2 separate regions of the Homo sapiens genome follow, and region 1 is linked to region 2. The links come from fine-mapping of genetic effects on gene expression. A gene starts in region 2. The other region holds a variant in brackets. All regions are shown on one strand. Distances are between the middles of the regions. Region 1 overlaps VAPB (VAMP associated protein B and C). Region 2 holds the start of VAPB (VAMP associated protein B and C).

Region 1 (11,335 bases), 49 kb after region 2:
CAGGTCGGTAAATGTTCCAGGTCTGTCTGTAGGAAAGGTCAGCTCTTGCCAGCTCAGTGATGCCAGAGAAAGAGTTATGTTGATAAAAGGTTTACTCTCTGACAGTTATTGAATTTTGTCCTGAAGAAGTCTCCCAGCAAGGCTTCCTTGTAGCTCAGGGCCTTCAGGTGGGTCTTGTGGGCAGTGAAGCTGTCTGGGTGACTAGGGACACCAGTGCATTTAAGTCCAATGCATGGTTAGGTCTCAGTGGACTTTCTCTGTTCCCATGGTGAAGAGTGCTACTGCATCCCTAAGATGGATGGGGGAGGTTGGTATTTCTATCCTGTTTTGTGAATGGTTCCATTAGCTTTGTCGTGGGGCCTGGGTGCCAGATATAAATCTAGCTCATATTGGAGTGACTAGTGTGGTGAAAGGGGTGCTAGACTGCACTTGTAGTCAAGTCTTGGCTCTTTGTCCCAGTGTTGCCACTTCTTAACATTGTGACTTTGAGGGAGCCACTTCACTTTGTGGAATCCCAGATTCTTCATTTGTAGACCACGGCTATCCTGCTTTCTATCTGCTGCTGGCTGTGGTTGATTGTGTGGCTCTAGAGGAAGCACCTGGGAAGTCCTAAGTTGGGGTTTCAAGGCAAGAGAATGCTGATGAGGGCCCAGCAGAAAGGTGGTAGAAGCCCTGCTGGTGAGAAGCATAAGACTTGTACTGTCAGAGGACAAGGCACCAGTCCTTTGTGGTGGCTGTGAACTTAGGTCCCCACACCAACTGCCTGGGTTTGAGTCTGCACTCCACCAAGGTGTAACCTTGGGCAAATTCACCTCTCTGTGTTCATTCTTTTCATGTGAAAAGTAGACACCAGAATAGCCCCTCTCCCCCAACAATAGTACCTACTTTTTAAGGATTAAATGAGATGATGGTAAACCTAAGGGACAGAGCCCAGTTTCTGGCACATGGAGATACTCAGTCCATGCCCACTGTTGTGGTCAAGGCCACAGTAGGCTTTCCCTGCATGTGAAGTTGTCTCAGGGAACTTAACTAGATGTGTGGGTTAGCCAAAGCCTTGTAGCAAAGTAACATATTTTAAAGCAGCCATCATTTGATAGGAGTAGGCCCAGCTGTACTCTAGGAAGTAGGCTGAAGGGAGCCACTTGGGGTAGGAAGGCACCTCCCTCCATGCAGTGGGTGTGACTCATCCACAGGATCCTCTGTGTGAGATTTCTCTAGGTTCTTAGGGAAAAAAAAGGGGGAGTATAAGCTGATACCGTTTTCCCTGCTGTGTGAGTGTCCTGATTGTAAAAATTTTCTAGCTTTATGTTGGCAAAATTGTATTTCAAGGATTACCTTGATTAGCTATATGAGAAATGGGTTGGAGAGAAGCTACAACAGTTCCTTAAATGTTCTTAAACATCTTAGATTATTCTATTTAATTCCTGAAGAGATCATTTGGATATGTTTTCTTGAGCAAAACAGGCAGATGGTGTTGCTACCCAGTTTCCCAATTCTGTAAGGCCTGTAGCAGACATTTACGGTAGGCTTGCAGTAGTGAAAGATCCATGGACTAGGAATCAGAAGACTGGGTCCTCGGCCTTATTCCCAGCTCTGTCATGCGTGATTTTGTGGCTCTTAGGTTGGTGACCTGCAAAATGGAGATGTTGGTCATCCTTGCTTACTTCACCAGGGGCGTCCATCCTAAGACATAAGAGAATGCCGGTAAATTGCTTTACAACCAAAGTACAAGTATTAGCATAATAAATGGCACTGACAACCAAGCTCTGACCCTCCTAATGAAATATTTTCTTTCTCAGTGATGTTACAGCCTTTCGATTATGATCCCAATGAGAAAAGTAAACACAAGTTTATGGTTCAGTCTATGTTTGCTCCAACTGACACTTCAGATATGGAAGCAGTAGTAAGTACTGAATGCTTCTTATTTTTTTCAGTAACAATAATTTAAAAAACCAATTAGATATGGAATTGTGGGTGCATGCATTTCAAAATATGTCAAAATTATTTAAAAGGGAATAGTTTTTTTTCAAGGAGGTTTGTACTTTATCTACCTTTATGGTTTTTCTAAAACTTTGAGGAATAATTTTAACATTTTTTGTGACTTTCTAGAAGGCTGTTCTTTTCTGACTTTCCTGAGCTCAGTGTGCTTCAGCAGCTCCTTGCACTGGTGGATGGTGTCTTGCATGGTTAGGGATTGCCTTCTTTCGCCTCTCCTTTCTGCCCCGACAGAAAAGGATACTTTTCATTGTCCCGCCTTTTTCTTACTTGTCTTCTCATCCCCCACAAACTCAAGAGCCATGTGAGAGTGTCAGTGCTGAATGTCCTCACCCATTTAGACATACATGTTTGTGGCTTTGTTCTAGTAAATATGCTTATTTATTTTCCCCCCTGCTTAAATCTATGTTTAACTTTTCTCTAATTTTGATAAAATTAAGATGACTTCATTTTTATAAAAGAAATAAGTGATGTTAGTGATGGTTTTGGAAAAAAAAAAAAGAGTATAATGGACATTCCCTCCAAAACGAGCTTTTTATACATTTGAATAAGTCCATTGGCATTCTGGGGCTGGGAGTTGAATTGAAATCTACAATACAACCCACAGCCCCAGCAGGGACAGATGCGCTTGTCCTTACAGTTCAGGAAAGCAGGACAGGGTTGCCTCATACCACTTGCATTGCTCTCCAGTTTTGGCCCGCCCAAAGGGGAGCCCCGAGTCATCCACGGCAGGTCTGCCCACCTGAGTCCGCTGTTCATCACACCATACTGCAGTTCTCCTCTGTCTGAGTTTCATACCAAGGGCAACTCAGGCCAAGACCACCCCATGCCCTATGTCACCACATAGCCTTTTGTTTAAGTTCTGGAGAAGCATCTCCGCTGATGTTTCACTTGTAGGCAGAAAATGAAGGAGGAGGCCAGATATTTTTGACTTTTAGAGAGATCAGTGATAATAGGCTGTCTTCTTTTCATAAGAACAATTCTTATGAAAACTTTCTCTGATTTTCTGCAACATGATGTGTTACTTCATGTTAATTTGTGTGATCAAAGAAACATGGCAGATAGAAAATAATGGAAGATCCAAGGGTGTGTTCTGTTTGGCTTCTGCTGCATGGCATAGTGAAAAGAGCATGGGCTTGGGTGTTTTCGAGCTGAGTTCTTCCTTTTACTGACGTTGTGGCTGGGAGCAGGTTTTATTAACTCTGTTGAGGTTTTGATCATTTGTAAAATAGGGATAAAAATGCAGCTCACACAGTGGTGAGTATGAAGTGTGCCTGTGTAAGTGCCTGGTGGGTCCAGTGTCTGACACTTGCTTATCAGAGTGTGTAATAGGCCAGTCACTGCATATCTAGTAAAGGGTCATTTTAGTTCCTTGTATGATGATATAAGTTTAAATTTTTTTTATATAAAATGTACATTGTGGGAAATTTTGGAAATACACAAATGAAAAAAATTTAAAGTGACCCATAGTTCTTTTCTACTAGGCCTAACCATCATTAATGAGAAATGAGAGCTTTGTGTTTTTCTTCCTTTTTTTTTTTTTTTTTTTTTTTGGAGACATGATTTTACTGTGTCACCTAGGCTGGAATGCAGTGGAGTGATCTCAGCTCGCTGCAGCCTCCACCTCCTGGGCTCAAGTGATCCTCCCACCTCAGCCTCCCAAGTAGCTGGGACCACAGGAGCGCACCACCATGCCTGGCTAATTTTTTTGTAGAGACAGGTTTTCTCCATGTTGCCCAAGCTGGTCTCAAACTCCTGGACTCAAGCGATCTGCCCACCTCAGCCTCCCAAAGTGGTAGGATTACAGGCATGAGCCACTGCCCCAGCCTGCTTTTTCTTTATTTTAAAATGTTTTTCTTTTTATTGTGATATACAGAAAGTTGAAAAAATAGCATGGTGACCACTCATATAACTTTTACCTAGATTTACATTTGTTAACATGTTGTGACATTTGCTTCCTTTCTGTCACAAACTTTCTTATTTGCTTGAGATGCAAATTTATGACACTTCACCCCTAAATGCTTCAGAGCAAGGACAGTCTCTTATATAGTCATGATACTATTAATCATAGCTGAAAAAAGTAACTTCAATTCAGTATTATTATGTGATAAATTCATATTCATTATTTCCTAGTTGTTCCAAAAGTGACCTTTAGTAGAGGACACCCAAACCTTTTTGTTTTTCAAACTTTGAACTTTTTTTTTTTTTTTTTTTTTTTTTGAGACAAAGTCTTGCTTTGTCACCAAGGCTGAAGTGCAGTGGTGCAGTCATGGCTTGACCTCCACCTCAGCTGTTCGAGTAACTAAAACTACAGGCATGCCACCATGCCGGCTATTTTTTTATTTTTTTATAGAGTTGGGGTCTCACTATGTTGCCCAGGCTGGTCTTGAACTTCTGGGCTCAAGTGATCCTCCTGCCTCTGCCTCTCGAAGTGCTGGGATTACAGGTGTGAGCCACTGCACCCTGCCCAAACTTTGAACTTCTTTTTTTTTTTAAGAGTCCAGGCCAGTTGACTTACAGAATGTCCTGTATTCTGGATTTATTTGATTATTTCCTCATGATTAAATTCAAGTTAAATGTGTTTTGGCAAGAATATTCCATAGTTGGTATTTCATACCAGGTTGTTCCGCTGTTGGTGATGCTGTTTGATCACTTGGTTAAGATGGTGACTGCCAGCTCTCTCCACTGTCATAGCACAAAGCACATTTGCCCCTGTGGTTAATAGGTAATCTGTGATACTCTGAGTCATCTGATACTTTGAGACCATGTGAATATCCTGCTCGCCAGCAGTCTTTCACCTGGTGCTTTTAGCATTCAGTGATGATCCTTGCTTGATATTTTTTTTGACTTATGTGGTAGGCACACGTGTACAGGTGTGTGTGTGCAGAGGAGCAGACTTCAGTATTCTTTGCGATTTTTTCACTTAACATTCTGGACATTTTCTCCATCTAACTGAGTGCTCTTCAGCATCATTTGAGTGGCAGCATGCTGTTCCGTTTAGTGGATCTGCCATAATTTTTGTGGCAGTCCCCTAGGGTCAGATGTATAGATTGCTTCCCACTTTTGGTTCTTGGTACCTGTGTTACA[G/C]TAGCTGCCTCTTGCATGGTTTTGGGAAGGGTTGAGGGCATGGAGGGTGGGGGTGCCTTCTTTTTCTATATCATAACCTTGCTGCTATCCTGGTCTGTAATCCTAGAATACCCTGGAATTCCCATCTTCTGCTGCCAAAAGGAGAAGTAATCAGGAGCGTATCCTCTTAGGACATGGGATTTAGCTAGGAAGGTGCTCTCACTACAGCCTGGAGGGATGGAGATGGGTCTTGGGGTAGACACAGCCCACACACTGCCACAGTGACAGAGGAGGGATTTGGTAATGAATGTGTTCCGTTGGTAGTTGGCAGAGTGGTTCTGAAACTAGTCCCAGATAGTATGCGCTTATACTTTCTAGATATGCCTTTAAAATAAGTTTCATTTTCTCATTTTAATTTAATTTATTATTTTTGAGACAGAGTCTCTCAGTGTCCCCCAGCCTGGAGTACAGTGGCATGATCATGGCTCACTGCAGCCTCCACCTCCTGGGCCCAAGTGATCCTCCCTCCTCAGCCTCCTGAGTAGCTGGGACCACAGGCATGTGCCTCCATGCTTAGCTAATTTTTTAATTTTTTTGTAGAGATGACGTCTCCTTACGTTGTGCAGACTGGTCTCAAACTGCTGGGCTCAACCAGTCCCTCCACCTCAGCCTCCCAAAGTGCTGGGATTACAGGCATAAGCCACCATGCCCAGCTGAAAACAAGTTTTATTTTCATAAGGAGAGCCAAGGTTACCTGGTCATCCAGACATTGTTTAGAGGATTCCTTTTTGTTCAGTGGTGGGCCTGTCCCACAGAGTAGCAACATGGGGAGCATTGGTTGACTTTGAGGAGTCAGGCAGCAAGACTTCAGGGTTTATGAAGTGTAATATTTTGAGAAAGTGAGTGTATTTAATCTTGTCATGTTACAAATATTGAAATCTCAGCAGACTTCAGTTCTTTATTTGATATACATCAGGGCTTTCTCATTAAGAGTATTTTTCTGAAATTGTCAGTTATAGGAAGAAAGTTATTCTTCCAGCAGGTTTATAATATCTTGATTATTAAATTTAAATTGTTTTAGTGGAAGGAGGCAAAACCGGAAGACCTTATGGATTCAAAACTTAGATGTGTGTTTGAATTGCCAGCAGAGAATGATAAACCAGTAAGTATATTTATAGTTAACAATAATTGAATGTTGTAAGCTGATACTTATTTGCATACCATTTCCTGCAAAACCAAGATTTAAGTTGGCAAATTATTTTCCTTTATCTGATGTCTGAAGAAAAAAAATAAGCTGAAGTCAGCAAATAAGTGGGCCTTTATGAAATCAGCCTTTGAAAAACTCACGGAAAGACAACTGATTGACAGTGTTTCCCCTTGAAAAGTGCAGCCCGATGGCCATTGAGATGTCATAAATCCTGAAGAGCTTCTGTGGCCTGGCAAAGGTATAGGTTGCTGTTAAACAGTGGGTGAGAGTGAAAGAGGGAACAATTTGCCCTTTATCATGGTGGTTGATGGACGTGTGGGAAGCTTTCAAGTTCTCTTGTTTTACAAAGTGCCCTGTCAGCCTCCCTACCCCTTTTACCCTATCTACCTCTTCAATCAAAGGCTGCTTTTAGATGAGGATTTCTCAGCCTCAACACTGTTGATATTTGGGGCAAATCCTTGGTGGTGGTGGAGGTTGCCCTGTGTACTGTAGGGTGTTTTATTAATAGCAGCATCCCTGGCTTCTGCCCTCTTGATACTGGTAGTACTTCCCAGTTGTGACAACTAAAAATGTCTCCAGATATTGCCACATGTGTCCTGGAGGGCAATATCAACCCCCATTGAGAGTGATCCCATTCCGGTGTTGCCTGTGGGGAGAAGGAAGGAGCCCCATCCTCTAGGCTGTCCACTGTGAGCGCTTTACCTTTCATGATCCTCACTTGTGACCAGTTGAAGAAAGGAGACTGTATCTGAAATGCTAATTTGGACTTCCCTTCAACCTAGTCGAAAACATTTTAATTTTTATAAAAACACCAAAACTGTGAAAGCATGCAGCATGTGAAACTATCCTAGCCATTAATAGCTGGAGTTGGGAAACAGAAGTACCCTGAAATGTTGTGTTAACAGTATCTATGTTGGTCTGCGCGAGTGCTGTTGATTTGTGTCAAAACTACCTGAGATTTTATTTCTGCTGAATCATTTACCACTATCATTACCCTGTTTCTTTAAGTGGATAGTGGTCATTTTTTCCCTCTTCCCAGTGTACATCCTGTCACAGGAAGGTCAGTTTGGAAGCTGTGAAAGCAGTATTCTGGCCTCAGCTCTGTGATAGGTTGACTTGGTAGCCTGGGGCCTTGCTTCACAGGGCCTACTCTTCTCATCTGGAAAATGATGGGTAGAGCTAGATTCCAGGCCAATGATCGTCAGTTACTCTTTCCCTGACAAGCTGCGTGCTTCCATGCCCTCCCTCCACTGACTGGCTCTCATCCCCTGTAAATCTCAAGAGGGGATCATAGCTGAATCTTGGCAGGGGAAATAAGGGGAGTATGTAACTTCCCAAGATTGAAACATTGCAGACACTGAGTTTGTTTCACCTTCATCCCAGCTTCCAAATGCTAAGTTGGTAAAGTAATTCGCCCTCTGTCTAATGCTCTCCCAAGCCTCCTAACCCCACTAAGGCAATCCTAGGGATGTTCACATCTTTGTGGTGACAGTAATTTGTGGCTAATAATTCCTGAGCTTGCACAATTACAGTATGCTGATTTTTCCGTGGCAGGAATTTGATAGTGCAATATACACAGCCCTTTTTCTCTTTCTTTGAAGTATTAGTCTCAGCCGAACTTCATTATTTGCCCTTATCCATAATTTCTAGGGCCCTGTTGCTTTAGATTATTAAGATATCAGATAAAGTAATCCATTTTTAAAATAAATGTGACATTTTACAGTGTGGATGAAATGCTACCACGTTTGGTGTTTGCTGAGAACTACTTTACTTTGCATAAAAAAGTCCATTATTACATGGTCGGTGACACTTAGGCTTTCATTTGTTTTTGAACAGCATGATGTAGAAATAAATAAAATTATATCCACAACTGCATCAAAGACAGAAACACCAATAGTGTCTAAGTCTCTGAGTTCTTCTTTGGATGACACCGAAGTTAAGAAGGTTATGGAAGAATGTAAGAGGCTGCAAGGTGAAGTTCAGAGGCTACGGGAGGAGAACAAGCAGTTCAAGGTAATAGTTTATTTTCTGGTAATCTACAGAAAACAAGGGCGTTTTCACTAGCTTCTTGGGTGGGGAAGTTGATGAGCCAGTGAATATATAGATTTCTTTTTGCTTTTGGTATTTGGCTATTTTTTTCTCCCCAGGGAGAAATTTCCATGGCTTTCATGAGAGTCTCAAAAGGGTCCTTGGATCTGCCTAAATTAAGAACCACTGTCCCTTGATCAGAAATTTCTCAACTGTTGAAGCTCTTGTCCCCTTAAAAAAAAAAACAAAAACAAAAAACTTGGCCGGGTGCGGTGGCTCACGCCTGTAATCCCAGCACTTTGGGAGGCCAAGGCGGGCCGATCACAAGGTCAAGCGTTCAAGACCAGCCTGGCCAACAAAGTGAAACCCCGTCTCTAATAAAAAATACAAAAAATTAGTTGGGTGTGGTGGCAGGTGCCTGTAATTCCAGCCACTCGGGAGGCTGAGGCAGGAGAATCGCTTGAACCCAGGAGGCGGAGGTTGCAGTGAGCTGAGATCGTGCCACTGCCCTCCAGCCTGGGTGACAGAGCTAGACTTCGTCTCAAAAACAAAATAAACAAAACCCCAAACAACTCAAACTCTCCATTATTGTAAATTGAAAATAAATGTTGAGACCAAAATAGTTTTTATTTTGAATATGCATTTTTAAACCACTTGGGTGAGAATCTTTTTTCAGAGAGTGAATACTGACCTATACTCTGTTTTAATGCAAGTATAGTTCTGATTTTAGAAGACTCTAAATAGGTCTGGGCAGTTGTGGCTCATCAAACTATTGATGTGGTGATGAGCTTGGAGGTGGGGTGCCTCACAGTGGGTAGGAGGTGGAGATTATGGAAGGAAAATCTGAGCTTCTAGCTTCTGGATGAGGCAGTTGGCATTGGCAATGGAAGGTTGTATTGTACTGAGTGATGAAGTGGGGAGGCAGGGGGTGCTTCTTTTGGCTTGTGGTGGTGTGGAAGTTGCTCCCATCCAATATGAAACAGCTCTGAATCTGTGCTGGTCACAGCATCTCTTAGGCCTCTGTTTGCTAAACACCTCTAAGGCCCCTTCCAGCTTTAAAAGTATGAGTTTTCTTCTCTTTTACTCTGACAGTGAGGTAGATATAGGAGAACTGACAGCATTTGGGAAATGGCATCATCTTCTTCCTTTGCAGTGATTTTGATTTGCCTCAGTCAGTAATTTCTTTAGTGTGTAGTAAATTGTGAAGCTGACACTACTTTTTGGCTAAAAATCTAAGCTATGCCTGAAGCTTCTCGAGTGTATTTCTCTTCTGAAACAGAGTTCTGTGCTATTTAAAGTGGTAAATAGGTAGAAATAGCTTCTATATAACCTAATAAAATAAATGGTTTAGTTTGCCGGGTTTTTTTTTAAGCCAGTCGGACACCACCAGTTGTTTATCACTGTGCAGTGATACGGGCCATGCCCCATGAGCAGAATATCCTTAAAATATGATCAGACCAATCTCAACATTAGAAGATTCTTTATCCTGCCAAACACTGCCTTCTTGTTTTGTGTTGGTTTATTCTGTCATCTGGCCAACAAATTTACTGAGGGTCTAATATGTGCCCGGCACTGTGGATTCAAACACGAACAGCCCCTGCCCTTGAGGAGCTCTCTGTTGTTGGGATAGCAGGGAGAGACATAGACAGAAGTGATTACAAGCCAGTGTGATCAATGTCCCACAGAGATAGCAACAAATTGCAGGGAGAGTCAGCTCCATGGGACTCATCTGCCTGTGGTCCCCAGGACCTACTAGGTACTCGGGCGGATGGGAGCGAATGGAAGGAAACGAAGAAAAGAAAGTACAGCTGGTGTGTGGGGTTTAAGGATGAGGAGATGAGGTAATTAGCAAGAGATCTATCAGCAAAGATGAGTCTGTGCCAGAATAGAATGGCTTGATGCATGTCCCTCTTCAGGGATGTGGGCTTGGCTTTGAGAGCATGGAAATGGCATCATAGATCTACATAGTAACTTGCAGATTCTTAGGAAAGTGCAAGGCAGTTGTGGCAGTGGAGGTGAAGGAAGAAAAAATTTTTCATTTCTTACATTTCCATGTAGTTTGGGGACAAGGGGAGGGTGGGGAATATGGTCAAATATCTTTATATGTATGAAAAAGAATGTTGCTTCTTCAATGAGAAATCTATGCATTAAGTAGAAAATATTTGAGATGAGTGTATGAAGGCCAGTCACATTTTAATATTCCAAATATCATTTGATCCAGCAGTCTGGATGTAACTCATTAAGTACCAGCTATCTACAGAGCTCTGCATTTGAAAGCTTCCAGATGTCCCACTTTTAGGTTTTTTTTTTTTTTTTTTTTTAATATGGAGTCTCACTCTGTCACCCCAGGCTAATTTTTGTAATTTTAGTAGAGACGAGGTTTTACCATGTTGACCAAGGGGTAGTCTTGAACTCCTGAGCTCAGGTGATCCACCCGCCTCAGCCTCCCAAAGTACAGGGATTACAAGCATGAGCCACCGTGCCCAGTTGACTTTGTAGATTCTTTTATTTATATATTTATGTCTTGGGAAATGCCTGTGATTTTAAAAATCGATGATTTGATCAAGGAAGGCTATTCATTAGAGGCAGGAAGGACAGAGAGGTTGGGGTTGAAGAGAAGCATCCGGAAGACATGGCCATAGAGGTGGGTGGGGCCGAGGGTGCAAAGGGCCCAGTTGACCCTTTTAAGTGCTTTTTTCTGTAAATCACGGGAAACCAAGGAGCACCCTGTTTAGATGTCTGTTGTAACTAGCAGCAGCAAGTGGAATGGATGAAAGAAAAGAGGGGACTGTTTTCTCAGTGGCTTCAGGCTAGCCCTTTCCCCTCTGTAGCCTGCAGTTTCTCCGTTTGCAAAATGCGGTTGGACCATATCATGTCATCCAACACTGGGCATAAACAGCCCATCCCGTTAAGCTGTACAGTTGACTCCCCTTTCTGGTGCCTTGGCTTGTCTTTGAAATGTGCGTTTGCTCCCGTAGGAAGAAGATGGACTGCGGATGAGGAAGACAGTGCAGAGCAACAGCCCCATTTCAGCATTAG
Region 2 (11,335 bases):
TGCAACCTCCGCCTCCCGGATTCAAGCAGTTCTCCTGCCTCAGTCTCCCAAGTAGCTGGGATTACAGGCAGCTCCCACTACGCCCAGCTAATTTTTTGTATTTCTAGTAGAGACGGGGTTTCACTATGTTGGCCAGGTTGGTCCTAAACCCCTGACCTCAAGTGATACACCCGCCTCAGCCTCCCCAAGTGCTGGGATTACAGGCGTGAGCTATCGCACCTGGCCTAGCTGTAGATTTTTGACCTTGCTGAAAATTATACTCAAACTTTAATTGGGTGGGCTGCAGGATTACAACATAAATGGAATTCACACATTTAGCAGAATCTCAAGCAGTGTGTTTGGCTGTGTACTTTGTGTGGCTGAGAAATGACCAAGAGCACAGAGGTGCACGGGCCCCTGGGTAATGGATGATCAGGGACGGAGAGAGCAGATGTGGATGTGTGGTGAGGAGGTCTGGGAGGAGGTACTAGATACCTCTCAGGATGGGTGTGAAGACACTGGTGTCTCGGCCAAGCGCTGTGGCTCATGCCTGTAATCCCAGCACTTTGGGAGGCCAAGGCGGGTGAATCATGAGGTCAGGAGTTCGAGACCATCCTGGCCAACATGGTAAAACCCCGTCTCTACTAAAAATACAAAAAATAGCCGGGCGTGGTGGTGGGCGTCTGTAATCCCAGCTACTTGGGAGGCTGAGGCAGGAGAATTGCTTGAACCCAGGAGGTGGAGGTTGCAGTGAGCCGAGTTCGTGCCACTGCACTCCAGCCTGGGCAACAGAGCAAGACTCCGCCTCTAAATTAAAAAAAAAAAGACACTGGTGTCTCATGTGAATGCCCACTCAAAGACATCTACTGCAGCAGCAACTCTATTAATTGAGTGGACAAGAGGGCACATTCTGCAGACAACAGTCAGTCTTTCCCACAGCTGTGCCATTGCGTGCTCAATGAGCTTATTTATGCAGTGGCCATGGTGGCAGGTGTGGAGGCTCTGTATGGGCTTAGGAACATGGGCTTCCCCTTACCAAAGTGACCCGGCAGAAGAGACCAACACTAAAGCTTTGTTATGGCACCATTCCCTGGGGGAGGGCAGAGGAGCTGGGAACCAGTGTTAAAAAACCTATAAATGTGGCCAGGCACAGTGGCTCATGCCATTAATCTCAGCACTTTGGGAGGCTGAGACGAGCGGATTGCATAAACTCAGGAGCTCGAGACCAGCCTGGGTAATGTGGTGAAATCCCATCTCTACAAAACTTTCAAACATTAGCCGGGTGTGGTGGTGCCTACCTGTAGTTTCAGCTACTCGGGAGGCTGAGGTGGGAGGATGGCTTGAGCCCATGAGGTAGAGGCTGCAGTGAGCCAACATTACACCACTAAACTCCAGCCTGGGCAACAGAGGGAGACCTTGTCTCAAATAATAATTAAAAAAAAAGAAAAAACACAACCTATAACTACTTGGATATGTAAAAGAACAAAATAGAACTTATAGGCTTAAAAAAAAATAAACAAAATGAAAAACTCCTGAAACAGGTTTATCAATAGCCTAAGAGATAATTAGTGACTAGAAGAAAGATCTGAAGAACTATCCAGAACGTGGAACATAAAGAGGACAGATTAAGATGTGATAGAGAGGTTAATAGACATGGAGAAGGGCACAAGACTTTTCTCTTTTTCTTTCACAATCCACAGTAATAAATGTATTTTAGTTGTGACTCACTCCATAGATATGTGTATATTAATAAATACAACTGAAACAAAAGATTCATGAAATAATACAATACACTCCAATATATTATATTCTCGTTCTTTCTCAACACTGGTAACAATCTACTACATTGATTTTATAAGCCACTGTTGGAAAACAACCTACAGTTTGAAAAATATTAGTTGAATAACTACTAATCACACTACAAGATGTAAAGAGTGAGAGAACGAGGTTGAGATAACATTTATTTTTATTTCTTCTTTTTTTGAGACAGGATCTCACTCTGTTACCCCAGGCTGGAGTGCAATGGTATAATGGTTCACTGCAGCCTCCACCTCCTGGGCTCAAGTCCTCCCACCTCAGCCTCCTGAGTAACTGGGATTACAGGCATGCACCACCATGCGTGGCTAATTTTTTTTTTTTTTTTTTTGTATTTTTTGTGGAGATGGGGTTTTACCATGTTGCCCAAGCTGGTCTTGAACTCCTGGATTCAAGCAGTCTGCCCGCCTTGACCTCCTAAATTGCTGAGACTACAGGCATGAACCACTGTGTCCATCCAAGATAACATTTAACAGAGATATTGTCACGTATGATACAACACGGATGAACTTTGGGGACTTTATGCTGGGCAAAATAAGCCAGTCACAAAACGACAAGTATTGTATGATTCTGCTTACAAAAAGTACCTAGACTAGTCAAATTCACAGAGGCAGGATGTGGAATGATGGTTGCCAGGGGCTTAGGAGAGGGAGCATGGGGAATGATTGCTTAAGGGGTACAGAGTTCTAGTTTTGCAAGATGAAGGGAGCTCTAGAGATGGATGATGGTGAGGTCGCACCACAATAGGAATCTTGTTAATACCACTGGATACTTAAAAATGATAGAGAGTAAATTTTATGTGATGTGTATCTTACCACAATAAAAAAGTAAAATTAAATTGAAAAAAAAAAAGTATTGTCTGAGAGTTTTCAAGAATAATGAAAGACACCAATCATCAAATTCAGAAAGCCCAAAGAACTCAAGGCAGGATAAATAAAAAGATAACAGCATGAGCTGGGCATGGTGGCTCACGCCTGTAATCCCAACTTTTTGGGAGGTCGAGGTGGGTGGATTACCTGAGGTCAGGAGTTTGAGACCATCTGGCCAACATGGCAAAACTCTGTCTCTACTGAAAACACAAAAATTAGCTGGGCATGGTGGTGCGTGCCTGTAATCCCAGCGACTCAGGAGGCTGAGGCAGGAGAATCGCTTGAACATGGGAGGCGGAGGTTGCAGTGAGCTGAGATGGCGTCACTGCACTCCAGACTGGGGGACAGAGCGAGACTCCGTCTCAAAAAAAAAAAAAAAAAAAGATACAGCATGGTAAAACTGTAGAACATGAGAAGAGGGAGAAAAGACCAACAACCTATGAAGGAACGATGTTAAGATTGTCACTGGACTCCTGAGGAGCAATGAGGGGGAACAGGCAAACAGTGGATGGCAATCAAGTGTGCTGAGAGAGGACAGCTGTCATTCAAGCAAGCAAGCCAAAATATCTGTCAAGAACAAGGGCAAGGCCAGGCGCAGTGGCTCATGCCTGTAATCCTAGCACTTTGGCGGCTGAAGCAGGAGGATCACTTGAGCCCAGGAGTTTGAAACCAGCCTGGGCAACATAGTGAGATTTTACAGAAAATAAAAAAATTAGCTGGGCGTGGTGGTGCATGCTTTTAGTCCCAGCTACACCGGAGTCTGAGGTGGGAGGATTGTTTCAGCCTGGGAGATACAGGTTGCAGTGAGCCACGATCATGCCACTGCACTCCAGCATGGGCAACAGAGCAAGACCTCATCTCCAAATAAATAAATAAATAAAATAAAAACAACAAAAGGCAAAAATGAATCCATTTGCAGATGAGCAGAAACTGAGAGGATTTGCACCAACGAAGCTACAAAAAAATAAAATTTAAAGGATTTACCTCAGGCAAAAGGAGAGTGATCCTGTTGGTGAAAGCTGAGATGCAAGAAGAAAAGGTGGATAAAAATGGTAATTGTGTGGCTGAATCTAAACTAATGTTGACTGAATAAAACAATTTAGTAATGTCTCTTGGGGTTACAGTGGCAAAGGTTAAACTTAACATACACTACATTAAGGTGTATAATTTAGAGGATGGGTGATTAAAGTACTCCAAAGTCTTTATATTTTAAGGAAACAGGGTAAAGACATTTTTACAAATATTTAAAGATATTGGACTTTCACAAGGTAAGTATGCATGCCCAAAAGTTTGAAGTAACCACTAAAACTTAGAAATAGAGTATACAGGTGAAGAAAATCAGAATGAGAATAAAAATAAACCCTAAAGAAGAAAGGAAAGGGGAAAAAAACCAGGCAGGACAAATAGAAATAACAAAATACAATGGTAGAAATAATTCCAGATATATCAGTAAATATAATAAATGTAAATGGACTAAATGCTCCAGTTAAAATACAAAGACTATTCTTTTAAAAAACCTTTTTATCATGAAAAATTTCAAGTATACAGCAAAGTGGGAGAAACAGTACAAGAAAACCATATACCTGCGATGTAGAGTCAGCCATTGCTAGCAATTTGCCACATTTGTCTCACCTATATGGGTATGTATAGGAGACTATTAAGAACACCTATTTAACTTCCATAGTAAACATAATATAATGAAATACAATTTAAACGGTAATCATGATGTAGAGTATCCACTTTTGAGGTCAAGCAGATCTGGATTCTCCAGCAATTTTTAATTATTTAACTTACGTGTGTGGTTATTTATTCAAAAGATGTCTCTTCACTAGGCTATAGTAAAAGGATTGGAATCAGGTTCGCTTTTCTGATCATTGTATTTCTAAATATTTGTTGCATAAACAAATAGAATTTACTAGTAAAGAATTCAGCACAGTGCCAGTTGCATAGTAAACATTTAACGTAGAGTAGCTTGTATTTATTGTAGTTGCTGTTGTTATTGGAAGCATTCAGTAGAGTGATACAAAATAAATAAGCAATAATTGGTAGTTTATTATATTTATAATTATTATTTACAAGACGTCACAGTGCCTAGCCCATATCACTCACCCATAAACATTATACTTATACTAAGTACTTTCACTATTATTCAAAGTCTCTAACAGTGCCTGGCACTACATAAGCAAGAGAAAAGTGGAAGTTTATTCTAATTGTTATTATTGAATAAAGCACTTAACACGAAGCTGGCCCCCAGCGGGCCCTTAATAGTTTCCGCGGTGGCTGTCGTAGCTGGACTACAGACCCCGCCTCCTGAGCGGCCCGAAGCCCCGCCCCTTACTGCCCCGCAGTCCCGCCCCCGTGGCTTGTGCCGCGCCTGCGCACTGTCCCGGAAGGGGCTCTACGCGCGCAGCTTTAGTCCCCGCCCCTGGAGCCGGCGGCGCAGGGCGCAGCTTCCCGCCGCCAGAGCGGGCCAGCCTGCTGCGTGCGTGCGTGTGTACGACTCTGCGTGCGTGCGTGCGTGCGTGCGTGCCGTCAGCTCGCCGGGCACCGCGGCCTCGCCCTCGCCCTCCGCCCCTGCGCCTGCACCGCGTAGACCGACCCCCCCCCAGCGCGCCCACCCGGTAGAGGACCCCCGCCCGTGCCCCGACCGGTCCCCGCCTTTTTGTAAAACTTAAAGCGGGCGCAGCATTAACGCTTCCCGCCCCGGTGACCTCTCAGGGGTCTCCCCGCCAAAGGTGCTCCGCCGCTAAGGAACATGGCGAAGGTGGAGCAGGTCCTGAGCCTCGAGCCGCAGCACGAGCTCAAATTCCGAGGTAAGCCCCAGAGGCCGCCACCTTCCTGCCCGCGGCCTCCGCCCCAGTGCTGGAAGGACGGAGCCCGGCGCGGCGGGTGACGTCGGCCCTCGTCCCCACCCCGACGGCGCTGTCGCGGGGGGCGGCGAGGCCGGGCCGGGCCTTGGCGCTCGCCGCGCTCCCCAGAACTGCCCGGAGTGGCCGGGACCCGAGAGGGCTGGTGCGGGAGCCGGGGCCTGCGCCTCCTCCCCGACCCCCAGCCTCCTGGGACTTGCCTTCGAGGCACTTGTCACTTTGTAACTTACCAGTTTGTGATCCTCTCTAGTGTGAGCCTCCGCCGCTGCCTTTGCCTAGAAGTTTCTTCCCCTGCTCCGTGACAGTGTTGACCTCAGGGCTTAGTTGAGGTGTCAGCTGCTCAGAGAGGCCTGCTGTGACCACCCAGCCACCGTGCACACCTGCTGTCATTCCCTATTCCGTCACTGTTTCGTGGTCAGCACGGCACTTTTCATACCCAAAATCACTGTTTCAATACTAGAAGGGAAACTGCATGAGGACAGGCTCTTGTCAGTTCGCTGCTGTGTACCCAGCACACATTATACGCCTAGTAAATAAATACCTGTTGAACCAACAGATGAACATGTTGAACCAACAAATGAACCTCCTCAGGACTTCTGATGGGATTGGGCCCATTTTCCTTTCACTGCGTCCCTCATGCTGTCTCCTGGTTGCGGTGCAAGGAGGCTGCCACGGTGCTGGGATCCTTTTTCTCCGCAGAGCTGTCTGGAGCAACACCTGCGGCGATGGGAAGCCATGACCCTGGTTTCTCCCAGATACTATTACCTCTGTAATTTGTGCCTTTATGTTTTCTATGTTGTTACTTTTGTTTTTTTTTTTTTTTTCCTACCTTCACCAGGGCCACGAGGTAAAAGTTCTTGTCTGACATGCTCATTCTTTCTTTTTGCGTGTATCCAGTGATGTGGGAGGCTCTGGGGAGGTGATGGATGCACAAGACAGATAAGGCCTCTGCTCTCACAGAGCTTACCTTCCGACGAGGACAGACAAACCAACACACAAGATCATTGCAGATAGTGCTAAGTGCTGTGTAGGAAATGGAACAGTCTGACTCCATGGAAGCGTACTTTAGATTGGAAGGCCGGGTCTCCACTATATCGCTAGCACCGGACTCACAGTAGATGCTCAGTTGGTATTTATGAATGAATGAATGGCCAGAGGCTCTCCAGTTTATATGTCCTATTGGGAAGTAGTGTAGGGTAACTTACCCAAAGTTACCCAGTTGGCAAATGGTACATTTGAACCCAGACTTCAGAGTTCACGCTCTTAACCGTTTTGCTGTCTGATCGCTGGGAAATACTCCAGAACGGTGGCTGTCACTTTGCCTTCCAAGTTAACAATGTGAAATAACTCTGAATTTACAGAGAACCAAAGGCTTTCCAATTAAAATGAAAAAACCGAAAAACCCCACCAAACCTACCGTGGATTGTAATTCCAGGATAGTACTTGAGCTTTCATGATGTTCTCATGGCCTTCTGGGGATGCCAGATTGGGAAAGAAGTCCAGGTAGCTAAAGTGAAAATAGTGAGCCTTAGTTTCCACTTGAGTTGTCTGAAGTTCTTTCTCTATCTGGGAGGCCTGGCTTGGCTTCTCCTGATAATTGGTGGGTTCATTCGGTTAGTCCACAAACATTTACTGAGTACCTGATCTGTGTGTCAGATACCCAGAGAAGCCAAGTTATATCAGCTGTACTCTCCTATTTTCCCTCAACCTCCTCCCAGTACTTTAGGGAAGGGGGCAGATGAGAATAACAGCCAGGACAGGACAATGATGTAGGGTAGTCCAGAGTGCTCCAGGAGCATTGAGGAGGTCAACTCCTGAAAGAGGTGTCATTTGAGCTCAGTTATAAAGGTCGAGTAGAAGAAGGCTCAAAGAAGGAAAGGGTGGGGAACATTTCAGACAGAGGAAATTGCATGCACAGAGGCACAAACACTGAGATGACTGGGCTCCTTTGGGATGCCACTAGTAGTTTTTTTTTTTTTGAGATAGAGTTCTCACTCTGTCACCCAGGCTGGAGTGCAGAGGCGCCATCTCACTGCAGCCTCTGCCTCCCAGGTTCAAGTGATTCTCCTGCCTCAGCCTCTTGAGTAGCTGGGATTACATACAGGCATGTGCCACTACGCCTGGCTAAATTTTGTATTTTTAGTAGAGACGGTGTTTCACTATGTTGGCCAGGCTGGTCTCAAACTCCGGACCTCAAGTGATCCGCCCTCCTTGGCCTCTCAAAGTGCTGGGATTACAGGCGTGAGCCCGGCCACCACTAGTGGTTCTGAATGACAGCAACAAAGAACATTTGTTGTGGTTGCCTGGCAAGATGGGAGACAAGGCTGGTGAGTAGACAAGAGTCAGATCTCAGTCCCTTTATGCATAGATGCAGCCAGTGTCCAAGTTAAAATTGTGTTGCTTCTCCTTGAGCAGTCCTTCCTTGCATTAACTTTCTGAAAACCCCCAAATCCCAGTACAAACTCTGTTGTCTAATATGTTATGGAAAGAGGCACTCATTTGAGAAAATTTAAGATTTTGTTCAATTGTTTTACTGAAAGATGTGTGACCTTAGGCCACTTCACTCCTCAAAGCCTGGGGTGGTTATTCGGTCAATGGGGATGATGCTCGTGTCCACGTTGCCTCTTGTAGAACGTGTTTAGAAGGAATGACATGGCTGTTAGTGGCTTTGTAAGTGCATAGTACTATACAGAGATTAGACAACCACTTAACTACTTAAGTGGTTTCATCACTTCTGTACCTGAAAGGTGTGGCAGAGAATAGCGATCATTCTGGCCCTGGATTGGCCAAAGTAATTATGCCAAAGTCACTGGATATTTTTGCTAGGGAAGTGGTCCAAGAGAAGTGGTACCAAATTGTTGAAGGCCTCTGGCTCATAACTTTAGAAGAGACATCTGTGTGTGTTCTTAAATGACGTCATGAGGTGTGTTGTTTGTTTGTTTTAAACTGAATGCTAAGACAGTACAATTAATAGAGACTGAATACCCTGACTTAGAGATAATTCATTTCAGGATGAGAAATGGCACATTTAACTGGTTTCTTCCAGGTTACTCAGGGTGACGACTCTGATTTCTGGTCGTTCACCTAGATGAACCTCTGAGCTAACTTTACTTGAGAAGGTAATAACTAAAATGCCCATTCAAAGGAAAAATTATCTTTTAAATGCAGCCTAAGTTGATCGTATGGGATTGTATATTGTCAGACTCTTTAATCTTGGGAATTTTGTGTGGTATGTTAAATTTAAGGATGTTACAGAAGAAAAAGAATGCAAATTTATATGACTTTATGCAGTTTTATAGGAAGTACTATGCTGCATCATAAATATCAAAAGGAGAAAGCCTGGTGGCTTCCTGAAAGAAGCATGACACAGGAGGATTTGCCTAGACTTAAGGTTGACTTTCATGAGATATTTTTAGTAAGTGAACATTAAGCTCTTTCAGACTAGGGGTATCTTTCTGAGAGAGTAAATGTTTTTGTTTTTTGGCAGGGTCTTGCTCTGTCACCCAGGCTGGAGGGCAGTGGTGCCATCATAGCTCACTGTAGCCTCAAACTCCTGGGCTCAAGAGATCCTCCTGCTTTAGGTTCCCTGGTAGCTAGGACTACAGATGCCACCATTCCTGGCTAATTTTTAAATTTTTTTGTAAAGATAGAGTCTTGCCATGTTGCCCAGGCTGGTCTTGAATTCCTGGCCTCAAGCAGTCCTCCCGCCTCAGCCTTCCAAAGTGCTGGGATTACAGGCATGAGCCACTGCATGCAGCCTAAGTGTGTGTTTTCTTTTATATTTCTTTTTGTCTTTTTCACTAAGTCATAGGAGTTTTTTAAAATTGTCACTCTTTCTGTTGATCTCAGTTCTTCCAAGTCCTAATCGTTTCCTTGCCATCTCCTCACTCTGAGATCCCACTTGTTGTCCAGCTCAAAGAGAGCTTTCCGAATGAGTCACTTTCAAGGCATTATATAGCACTCTTCTTTCATTCCCTTCTCCCTCCCCTTCCATGAGAGTCCATCTGTGGTAAATAGTATGTCATATATTTTTTGGTCGTTCAGGACTCTAGATCATTCCTTACATCCTAGCCCATTCCCCCAGCAATGATACTGTCACATGGAAATGGTCTGTTGAACATCCATCCTCACTAGGTTAAGGTTTGTTTTGTTTTGTTTTGTTTTGTTTTGTTTTTTTTGAGATGGAGTTTGGCTCTTGTTGCTCAGGCTGGAGTGCAATGGCGCGATCTTGGCTCACCGCAACCTCCGCCTCCCGGGTTCAAGCACTTCTCCTGCCTCAGCCTCCCGAGTAGCTGGGATTACAGGCATGCGCCACCATGCCCGGCTAATTTTGTACTTTCAATAGAGACAGGGTTTCTCCCTGTTGGTCAGGCTGGTCTCGAACTCCCGACCTCAGGTGATCCACCCACCTCGGCCTCCCAAAGTGCTGGGATGATAGGTGTGCGCCACTGCACCCAGCCGGTTAAGGTTTAAACATAACTGTGGATGCATTTACTTTTGCTTTATTGCTTGACTGAACCAATGACCTTCAAGAAGTCTTAGATAGTCCTGCCATTAGTAGGGATCTCAGATGGGAGGGCACCAATGAATCAGTGTAGTTGAGTACCACTTTTGGGAGAAAATAGAAACTTGGACACTCTAAATGATAGTTTAAGGACGTTGTTTGTTTTGTTTTGTTTTTTGTATGGGAAAAGTTGGCTTAGACTCTTTAGTTCAGCCCTTCAAGTTGATGTGTAATTTAAGATTGTTTAGGAAGTTAAAAAATCTAAAGCCCTGTGGATATAGTTCATTCAGTGCAGTAATTATCTTTCAGATGCCAAGTACAGCATTAATTCTTTAGCTTTAGCATGGCACTGATTTTCTTAACACTTCATGATCACGTGGAGCAGACTGTGCTTTACAGCACAACAGAGCGTCAGCCATGTGCTGAAGATTCTTCGTGGTAGTGGTTTAGATCCACCCTGAATAGATTATCTTCATTTATTTAATTATTAAGTAGCTTGCTTATCAAAAGCGGCATTAAACTTACTAAACTTGAGTCAAACGTAAATCTTCATAGATAGTACCATTTACTTCTGAAATCTTGTTCCTGGGAGAAAAATGTGGACTGGAAGTTAACTTTCTTTTATCCACCTATTCACTCCTTTTTCTTCACAGTTAACTCCTTAGGGGAAAAAATGTATAGTTCTTGACCATGTGCTTATGTTTGTAAAGCAATGATGTTTCCTTAACGTGAGTGGTTGTGACATAGATCACTGTTATCTTCATAATTACCTGGGAGCTTTTCATCCAAGTGTGGATTTACTAAAATAATTAGTCTGAATTGATGCTTATTAAAGAGCTGAACTCTTAAACGTTAACACTATCTTGTATTTATTAAAATTGTATGCATGTTTCCTTCAAATGCTGAAGGCAGAATACTGAGAACTTTGACCCTGTGTTATTATCGCTAAGTAGTTGAAAATTAGGGGAGGAGTCAAGGGAGTATATTATATTGGTTATCACTCAAATACTACCCCTAGGCATGATTTTTAGAACCGAAACTTGAATTTTTACATAAAGAATTATCTCCAAAAGTGTCTTTTTTTTTTTTTTTTTTGAGATGGAGTCTTGCTCTGTTGCCAGGCTGGAGTGCAATGGCACTATCTCGGCTCACTGCAACCTCCGCCTCCTGGGTTCAAACGATTCTCCTGCCTCAGCCTCCCGAGTAGCTGGGACTACAGGCACATGCCACCATGCCTAGCTAATTTTTGTATTTTTAATAGAGACGGGGTTTCACCATGTTGGCCAGATGGTCTCGATCTC

Evidence for each region.
Region 1: its variant is fine-mapped to the expression of VAPB in blood mononuclear cells (TOPMed, PIP 0.95).

What each region holds. Positions count from the first base shown.
Region 1 is chr20:58,432,803-58,444,137 of GRCh38, forward strand. VAPB (VAMP associated protein B and C) reads left to right here. Exons shown (of 6, transcript NM_004738.5): 3 at 1,800-1,903; 4 at 6,143-6,223; 5 at 8,105-8,281; 6 at 11,275-11,335. Among named protein-coding and RNA genes, the nearest start is that of VAPB, 49 kb to the left of the region's middle. The variant G/C (reference allele first, on the strand shown) is at 5,083.
Region 2 is chr20:58,384,042-58,395,376 of GRCh38, forward strand. VAPB (VAMP associated protein B and C) reads left to right here and starts at 5,188. Exons shown (of 6, transcript NM_004738.5): 1 at 5,188-5,476. The coding sequence starts at 5,419. RefSeq lists silencers at 4,897-5,336, 5,597-5,716.